Homo sapiens: one gene and its partner. The protein of the gene in region 2 purifies or fractionates together with the protein of the main gene of each other region. This does not show direct contact. Each region holds a gene or a part of one and is shown on either strand. Other genes may lie near its edges.

Region 1 (5,082 bases), on a different chromosome or scaffold from region 2:
TCAGGTCCCAGGTTGGGGCTTGGCCAGGCCTGGGCTGGAGCGGGAGACCTTTCTAGCTGCCTCGGTCTGGCTGCCCACCCTGCACAGAGCCTGGGGCTCTGGCCTCTCTGTATCTCTCCTCTCCACTCTTCCTGGAGGGCACCGCTCTTATCTGACCTGCTCCCCCACAGTCTCCCTACATCTGGCCCAAAAATACACTTGGTGGCAGTCCCGCCATCACACTCAGGCTCGGGAGCTGGCGGCCCCTGGTCCGTGCTGCCTGCCACGCTGCTTTCCACGGCAGTGGTGGGAAAGGGAGGTTAGAACCCCATCTCCATGGCCAGAAGGCAGGAATTAGGGAAAAGGGGAGCCGTGAGGCTTCCAGGCCTGGGGTTGGAACAGAAGCTGCGCGGTGTGGGGCGATTTGGGCGCAGGACCCCGGGTGCTGGGAAGTGGGGAGCAGGACTGTGTCTGTTGCTCCAGAAAGCGCGAGGGATGCGATATAGGAAATTCGGGCGTCAGTTAGAGCCCGAGAGGGGTTCAGGGAGTCACTGACTTAGGCAGAGAGGAGCCCAGACGGGGTTCGAAGACCCTGGGGACGGACGCCCACCTGTCAGTCCTGGACTGTGGGGCACCCGTAGGCCGAGGGGCAGGAGGCTATGGCCCTGTCTCCTGGCTTGGGTCTAAACATCCCAAGGAGGTCAGACCGTAGAGTGGGGGCTGTGTGATCTTTCAAATGAGGGACGCCGCGTGTTACCAAAGGCCAGTGCTGAGGAGCTGGGCTGAAAGCTTGGGGAGTTCCCAGAACCAGCAGACTAGGAACGGGAGGAACCGTGTCGGGGGCTCTGCTCCGCTGGGCACTGACCCCCACCCCGCCCCCCGGTCTTGCAAGGGCTGGAGAAGGGTGAAAGGCAGAGGCGGGAGTCCGCACTTAGGGACCGGTCCGTTCCACACGCTGCTGACCAGGCTCCTGGGTGGCGCTCGCATGGAACATTCCGGAAACACCCATGGGAAGGTCCCAAGTTGGTTCCGAAAGGCCCTGACGGACGCGCAGGGGACGCTGAGCCTGTGATCCTCGCCTCACCCAGACGAGGCCGGGCTGCTTCTCACAGGAAAGTGCGTCTGGAGTCCGGGGACGGCCTCCTCCTGGGGCCTGTCCAGGTCGCCCTGGGCCTAAATTACAGGCGGGGAGAGGCCTGTCGGAGGAGCCCCCGCTCCAGACCCCTGGGGGACCCAGGGCGAGGTCGCCCCAGCGCCTCACGTCTGGGGGCTCCCCTTTGCCACGTCGCCAGAGCAAAATTCAAAATCTGCAGTTCTGGCAAATTTCCGGGGCCTCCCGGACACGAAAAGCAGCTGAAATCTCAGGACAATGTCATTGGATGCGGACCGAGAAGAAGCCGTTCGGAACCAGAGCTGCCCCGGATTCTCCCAGGCCTGGCTCGCCGGTGGGGGGACCCCGGTCCCTGGTTTGGGGGGGCAGGAACGGGCGGGCGCCCCTGGGGGCTTCTCATTTGTGTGTTGGTCTCGGCCTTGAAATGCAGCGGAGAAAATAAAAAATAAAATAAAAATAGGAGTCAGGTGTCAGAGTCGGGTCGGCCAGGCACTGAGGTTTGAAGGAATCGCAGAAGAAGCTCCTCTCACCCGGGTCCAGGCCGCGGGGGTTCTGCGGGAGGCGCCCCCGATTCTGCCCGCGGGACGCCGCGGCCTCGGAAGCCCCGGGAGCAGGCCCCGCCCCGCCCCCACCCTCCTCTCTCCCCAAGTCCTCCCGCCCCCCCAGCCCCGCCCCTCCCCCGCCCTGGGTGCTCCCCTGCCCCTCCCCCGGCCCTCCCCCGCCCCTCACCCGCTCCTGCCCCTCCTCTCTCCCCAGGTCCTCCCGCCCCCAGCCCCGCCCCTCCCCCGCCCTGGGTGCTCCCCTGCCCCTCCCCCGCTCCTGCCCCTCCTCTCTCCCCAAGTCCTCCCCGCCCCCAGCCGCCCCTCCCCCCGCCCTGCCCCCCCCCGCCCCCGCCTCCAGCCCCGCCCCTCTCCGCTCCCCGCCCCGCCCCCACGCGCCCGCGGTCCCGCCGGAAGGACTTAAGCGCCCCGGAGCCGGGAGGCGAACTTGGGACCCGCTGGCCTCGCTCGGTGCGCGCCTCCCTCCCCGCATGCAGCCCGCCGAGCGCTCGCGGGTCCCCAGGTGTGTGGCGCGGGGTGCGGGCGTCCCCGGCGGCTGCGGTCCCCGCGCGGGCCCGCGACCCCCCAGAGGAAACTTCGGGGACGCCGGCCTCCTTCTCTCGGTTTTGCAGGATCGACCCGTACGGATTCGAGCGGCCTGAGGACTTCGACGACGCCGCCTACGAGAAGTTTTTCTCCAGCTACCTGGTCACGCTCACCCGCAGGGCGATCAAATGGTCCCGGCTGCTGCAGGGCGGGGGCGTCCCCAGGAGCCGGACAGGTGGGTCCCGGGGGCGCAGGTGGGTCCCGAGGGCGCAGGTGGGTTGGGCTGGGACGGGCCGGGCAAAGTCCGGGCTCCCGGAGCGGAGGGAGGGGGAGGAACCTTTCCGGGCAGGTCGGGACGAAGCTGCGGGCTCCGAGCTAGGGCAGCCGCAGGGACCGGTTTTCCCGCTTTGAGATGGGCCGGCGGGTCGGACGCGAAGGAGACCCGTCCCTCCCAGCAGGGAGCCATATCGGGATGGATCAAAACTCGATCCATGCCGGGCGCGGTGGCTCACGCCTGTAATCCCAGCGCTTTGGGAGGCCGAGGCGGGCGGATCACGAGGTCAGGAGTTTGAGACCAGCCTGACCAACATGGTGAAACCCCGTCTCTACTAAAAATACAAAATTAGCCGGGCGTGGTGGCTCCTGCCTGTAGTCCCAGCTACTCTGGAGGCTGAGGCAGGAGAATCGCTTGAACCCAGTAGGCGGAGGTTGCAGTGAGCCGAGATTGCGCCATTGCACTCCAGCCTGGGCGACAGAGCGAGACTCCGTCCTTGTGACGGGACCCACAGGGCCCTGCTCGACCTGCCGCTCCTCCGCGACCCCAGGCCTCCTACTGCTGCGGTGAGCACCGGCCTGACCGCCCGCCCGCCTCGGGGTTAGCTGCAGGGCCCCCTCCTCCGGGGCGCCCCAGGCTTCCCTGTGCGGAGGGCACCTCCTCATTTCTGCCTTTCCCAGCACAGCCCCTGCTGGAGTCAAAAACCCTTCCTCCCTGCAACGGATTTTTCATTCACTGCTCAGTCCTCAGAACCTGGGGCAGTGCCAGGCGACTTCCCTGTGTGTTCAGTGAATGAATGAAGTGTCTGCCTGGGGTGAGGGCTTGGTGGGAGTGTGCCCTGGAGCTAGGAACTCAGAGAAGTGGGGTCAAAGGGGAGTCCTGGGGGCTTCCTGAGAAGGGGGATGTGAATGGCAGCTGGGCTTCCAGGGACCGAGCAGTAGGGACCTGGTGGGGAAGGACAGAGATGAAACCAGGGGCCCTGCACCTGGGCGGAGGGTCGGAGGTGTGTGGTGACCACGGCCAGGCACAGAGAAGCCAACTGTTAAAGGTTTTCCAGGCAGGGGGTGACAAGATCAACTTTTGCTTTTATTTATTTATTTGAGACAGGGTATCCCTCTGAGTGCAGTGGCACAATCACCACTCACTGTAGCCTTGACCTCCTGGGCTCCAGCCATCCTCCCCTCTCAGCCTCCCGCATAGCTGGGACCACTGGTGTGGCCACCACTCCTGGCTAATTTTTAAATTTTTTATAGAGATGGAAGTTAATATCCTATATGCTTCCCACGAATGCATCATGTCCCATCCCTGTGGCCTCTGCATGTTCACATGTTTCCAGTGGAACGTGTGTCTTTATTTTTCCTTTTCATTTATTCTTTTTGATTTATTTATTTTTGAGACAGAGTCTCACTCTGTCGCCCAGGCTGGAGTGCAGTGGTGCGATCTCAGCTGACTGCAACCTCCACCTCCTGGGTTCAAGTGATTCTCCTGCCTCAGCCTCCTGAGTAGCTGGGATTACAGGTGCACACCACTACACCTGGCTAATTTATTTTTTATTTTCTTATTTTTTTTATTTTGAGACGGAGTCTCACTCTGTCGCCCAGGCTAGAGTGCAGTGGCATGATTTCAGCTCATTGCAACCTCTGCCTCCTGGGTTCAAGCGATTTTCCTGCCTCAGCCTCCCAAGTAGCTGGGATTACAGGCACCTACCACCACGCCAGGCTAATTTTTCTATTTTTTAGTAGAGATGGGTTTTACCATATTGGCCAGGCTGGTCTCAAACTCCTGACCTCAAGGGATCTGCCCACGTTGGCCTCCCAAAATGCTGGGATTACAGGCATGAGCCACTGCGCCTGATTTATTCTTAAAAGTTAACTGTCTTTTAATTTTAAAAAGTAACGTAAAAGTATATAAGACATGTGAACTTAAAAAGCATAATTTATGTACATGGTAAACACTTTAATCATACTGAGGGCTACAAAGTGCAACAGGGAGTTTCTCTCCCACCCATGGCCCCCATCTCCTATAGAGATGACCGCAGGGGACTGTCCTTCCGTCCCCCTCAGGAGCAGAAGTCCACGCTTGGTTCTGCAGTTTGCTTTAAGAGCAGGGGAAGTCCGTGGGAAGTCCTGTGGCTGTGACCTGGAGGTTGGTTACAGCGGAGAATCTGAAAGATGTATGGTTGTGCATAAATTTTTGTTTTTACAGAAAACACAACTGCACAGTCATTCTCCCGTCTTTGCCTTTGCCATTTGGGTCTGTCCTATTGCTGTCCTTTTCTTCGACCAGGAGCTGCTAACTTGGGTTCCATATTTTCCTTTTTAGGGAACCACTCAGCACATTGCCCCCACTTTCCAATATGGACTTGGGAGGGGGTTCTGGGAAGAGCAGGGAAAAGGAAAAGAGCAATCCGGATGCAAAATCCTCCAGATTTTTATTCTTTTCCCCACTCCTTTGCAATTATTTTACACCTAAGTCAACAGTTTTGTTTTTGCTTTTTTTTTTTTTTTTTTTTAGCATTGGTCTCTATCAACTCTTTCTAAAAATTTCATTTTGTTTTTATTGAAGTAACAACTTTCTTCTTTTTGCTTTAATTTTTTTTTTTTTTTTTTTTTTGAGTCAAAGTCTAGCTCTGT
Region 2 (4,537 bases):
TACTATATAACCCTAGGCAAGTCACTTAATGTTTCAACCAGTTTTCATTGTAAAAGTATCTGTCCTATCTTAACAAAGGCAAAATTGAGCTGACAAATGCAAGGGTGTTAAGGAATTGATTGAAAGGACATGTATATGTCTGACCAAAACAGTCTGCCCAGACTCCCGAGCAGCAGTGGAACTTAAGGAATTGTTTTCTCCAGGATCCTTGGACCTCCCAGAGCTTCAGCCTGCAGCCTTTGTGTCTTCTTACCAGCCCATGTACCTGACACATGAACCCTTGGTAGATACTCACCTGCAGCACTTGAAGTCTCCATCACAGGGTAGCCCAATTCAGTCTTCAGATTGAACAAGAAGGGATCAGATGCCACATCGTTTTTGTCGTGATTAATTTAACTTAAACTAAAATTTTGGGTATATGAAAGAAGGCAGCAATTCAGAAGTAAAGAAGATACTAACGTATTTCATCATGGAAGGTCCTGTGGTGATGGTTTTCCCTGGGAAAACCTTCAGCTGCTTTATTTTTAGTAATAAATTTCTCTTGTCAATTCTGTTTACTTTCATCTTGTAATCGGGATGTAATCTTTTTTGCTTAGCTCTGCCTGAGGTAAAGTAAACTTCAGCCTCTTATAAACAAGAGTGATAGAGAGCTGCAGGCTGCTACAACAAATACCATAGACAGGTTGGTTTATAAATAACATGAATTTATTTCTCACAGTTCTGGATGCTGGGAAGTCCAAGTTCAAGGAGCGCAGATTCAATGTCTGGTGAGGGCCCACTTCCTAGTTCTTAGACAGCTGTCTTCCTGCAGTGTCCTCACGTGGTAGAAGAGGAAGGCAGCTCTCCGGGGTCCCTTTTATAAGATCACTAAGCCGGTTCATGAGAGGTCTGCTCTCATGACCTAATCACCTCCCAAAGGCCCCACCTCCCAATACCATCACATTAGGGGTTAGGATTTAACATGAATTTTGGGGACATATAAACATTAAGTCTGTAGTAGCAGCAGCTGACTAACGAGGGAGATAGGGAGATTCTGACAAACTTCTACTCTTGATTGTGATCCTAATTCAAGGAATATCAAGTCCCAGCCCCTGCAACCCAGGCTGCTGCTTAATTTTCATGTCAGTATCATCAAAATCCAATGTTCTGCTTAAACTCAAGATGGAAAGTCCAGTCCAAGGTACACTGTTCATCTTTTTCTTCACATTTTGCACATCCTTCAAGGGGATCTTTAACCTCTTTAACCTTTGTATTGCACCTCAGATAATGTGCTTTTTAGCTCAGTACACTGAAACCATATGATAACACAAATTCACATATAATTGGGGGTTAGTCCCATACTCTATAACAGACTTAGTCCTGTCTTTTCATTAGCCATGTAATAATATAACTCCATGTTCCATGCAACTGGATTTTTGGACCCTGTTAATAGCATTAAGGTAGAGGTTTACTCTATCACCTAACACCTCAACACTACCTGTGGGATGCCTTAGTTACCCAGCAGCAGGTTACCAAGGGCTGTCTGGAAAGGGAGGGACAAAAGGACCCAGAAGTAGAAGAATGGGGATGGAGTGGTGAGAATTGAATGGTTAATGCACTGCCATTCATAATTGCCAATTGAGGACAACACAAATGGGATTGGTACTTTATAGTAATAAATCTGACCAGCAGAGGGAGGGATCAGGCAGCAGTGTTTAGAGCACACCACACTGGCCACTGTAAACTGAGAAGCTAAGTTAACTGGTATTTTATGATTTTGAGTATAGTCTTTTTATAAGTTGTATACACTTTACAATGTAAAAGAAACAAACTTTGTATAATAGCAAATCGGGAAGGGGACTGCTTAAAATGTTAATGCAGTGTTTTTCTTTTTTTCTCTGCATAAATGGCTTGAGCATACTGGCATTTACACAGAAATGATATATGCTGCTTTTATCATATAACAAATATTTTCCCACTATTACAGCCTGAGTAATACCCGTATTAAAAGAGCCTCATTTTAGAAAGACATTTAAAATTTTTGGAACATACCACATGTAGAAAGGTTGAACTGGTTTTTCAGCTATAATGCATATACAACTATAGTGTGTACGTATACCACATATACATATACTTGTATGAAGATATGTGTAAAATGTTTTTACTATGGATCATGGATTTAAGAAACTTGAAAAGCTGGGCACGGTGGCTCACGCCTGTAATCCCAGCACTTTGGGAGGCTGAGGCGGGTGGATCAAGAGGTCAGGAGATCGAGACCATCCTGGCTAAGTCGGTCTCTAATAAAAATACAAAAAATTAGCCAGGCGTGGTGGCACGCGCCTGTAGTCCCAGCTACTCGGGAGGCTGAGGCAGGAAGAATCGCTTGAACCCGGGAGGCAGAGGTTGCAGTGAGCCGAGACCGCGCCACTGCACTCCAGCCTGGGCAACAGAGCAAAACTCCAACTCAAAAACAAAAACAAAAACACCTTGAAAAACACTGCCTTAGTATACTTAAACTATCTTTTCATCTATCAGATTGTTAAGGATTTTTTTTAAATTTGACAACATCCAGTGTCAATGAGGGTGAGGGCAAAAAAAGGACTACCTTGGTGAGAATGTAAGTTGTTTAATCCTTTGGGAGGGTTAAGCTGTAGATATCTAAATTTTAAATATATATTTATCCTCTTCCATGTTAAGAACCCTAAGAAATAACTGGACGAGTGTGGTATGATGTTTGCATGTGATATTCATTACAGTATTATTTTAATAGTAGAAAATTGTTAAAAATCTATATGTCCATTAATAGGAAATTGGTTAAATAAAATGAGGCTTCCACAAACTGAAACACTCTAAATCTATATTCTATTATTTACATAAGAAAATTATTTTGGTAAAGTAAGTAAGTCAAAAACACAGATTACAAAATAATATGTACTGTATAAAATTATATAACTCAAGTCAAGTGAATGGTTCAGCAAAATAGTGTTTCTCTGAATGATGAATTTGGGGGTGATTTTTACTTGCTTATACTTTAGTGTCCAAATTTTCTACAGTGACTATAAATTTCATTTTAAAACTAAAAAGTTCTTACATTTGGGGAAATGCAGTGAATTCCCACATCATGTTTTAAATTACTCAGCCACTAAAAATGAATGTGCATGGCGTCATTAACATAATCATTGCCTGAACCGTATTTTTCACACTATGTACTCTAGGTTCCTGGAGGTGAAAGGAATCTGGACTTAGAGTTCTTGGCTACCTCTGGCTGCCCCCGAATTAGAACAGCCCATGGGGGTATGTGTATTGGGAGTGGAGGAGTGGACGGGTAGATTGACTTTTTCTCAGGCATCAATCTGTTACAAGGTTCATGGTTTCTATGGGGCCAGATGCATGAGAGGTCAAAGCATGGGCAATAGGGGTTAACTGAACGAGTTGAATGCTAGGAAGTCCTCAGGGGAGCCAACGTTCCTTGTAAAGTGTGTAGATTTTTTGTTTTTTAACTAAATAAAATCTTGGCACTGACAAAGTTATTCCTGCTGTTTGGAGCTACACCAGAACCCCTTGGAACTCTACAGAGGGGTAGAACTAAAGCAAAAACCATCATTCACCCTACAGAGTATTATAAATTTCATTTTCACACAGTAAAAAGTTCCTAAATTGGGGGAAACATAGTGAATTCCACATAATGTTTTAAATTATTCAGCCACTAAAAATAAATTTACATATGATTTCATTAATATATTCACTATCTAAACCATATTTTTTACACTACGTAAAATACATTGTATATGTACAGTGAGTGATGCTTTTTGCTTTAGTTCTCATTTTTCACATTAAGGGGAGGAAAGCTACCCATAGATAGTATTCTTACTCCTTTTCACATGCTTCAAGGACAGTTTGCAAGTGGATATAAATACATACACATCACTAGTGATTATGCTTTTATTTATTTCCAACTTCTTATAGGTAACATAATTTTCAGACAATGTTAGCTGTTTTTAATCCATCAGTAAACTGCATTAAGATTCTTAATAAACAAACACTGAAGGCCTCTTTCATATTTGTATCATCTGCATTTTTTTTTATATGCTTGTCATGTGGCTTTACTTTCAGCCTCACTCTTTTCTTCTTCCAAATGGATTATCCTTAAACCTTTTACCTTTAAAGAGCCTGAGATTTATATTTAACTCGAACAACAGTTTGCCTCTGTTGCCCCTGTGTTCATGTTTTCCTAAGCCAGAGTTTCCCACGCCTCCTGTTCCTGGCAGCCCAAGTGCCTTCGCTGGGCTACTCCCACCTGGCCCTTGCTTTTCATTCCTTAGGGCAGTCACTTAGCACCTTCCAAAGTGCCTGCACATGTTTCTTATTTCATTTCTTAAACATTCATATTACCACTATTTAGATTGAAGGAACAGAATTGGTTTGGGCTTGAAGAGAATACAAAGAGATCTGTCTTCAATTATCTGATAGTAGTAAAGTTTCACGGGAGAAAGAAAGATTTCGGTTCCACATAAGGAAAAACTTGGAAAGTTTTGAATGGAAAGTTCATAGAGAGATT

What was found.
Region 1: the proteins of TBRG1 (region 2) and GRTP1 purify together in Homo sapiens (affinity purification with mass spectrometry; one large-scale study listed by BioGRID and IntAct). This does not show direct contact.

Annotation. Positions count from the first base shown.
Region 1 is NC_000013.11:113,361,090-113,366,171, reverse strand, and holds the start of GRTP1 (growth hormone-regulated TBC protein 1), read left to right. Parts: upstream 1-2,041; 5' UTR 2,042-2,120; coding exon 2,121-2,152; intron 2,153-2,261; coding exon 2,262-2,410; intron 2,411-4,303; exon of another isoform or gene 4,304-4,613; intron 4,614-5,082. UniProt on the Homo sapiens protein: May act as a GTPase-activating protein for Rab family protein(s).
Region 2 is NC_000011.10:124,631,890-124,636,426, forward strand, and holds the end of TBRG1 (transforming growth factor beta regulator 1), read left to right. Parts: intron 1-203; coding exon 204-349; 3' UTR 350-4,037; downstream 4,038-4,537. UniProt on the Homo sapiens protein: Acts as a growth inhibitor. Can activate p53/TP53, causes G1 arrest and collaborates with CDKN2A to restrict proliferation, but does not require either protein to inhibit DNA synthesis. Redistributes CDKN2A into the nucleoplasm.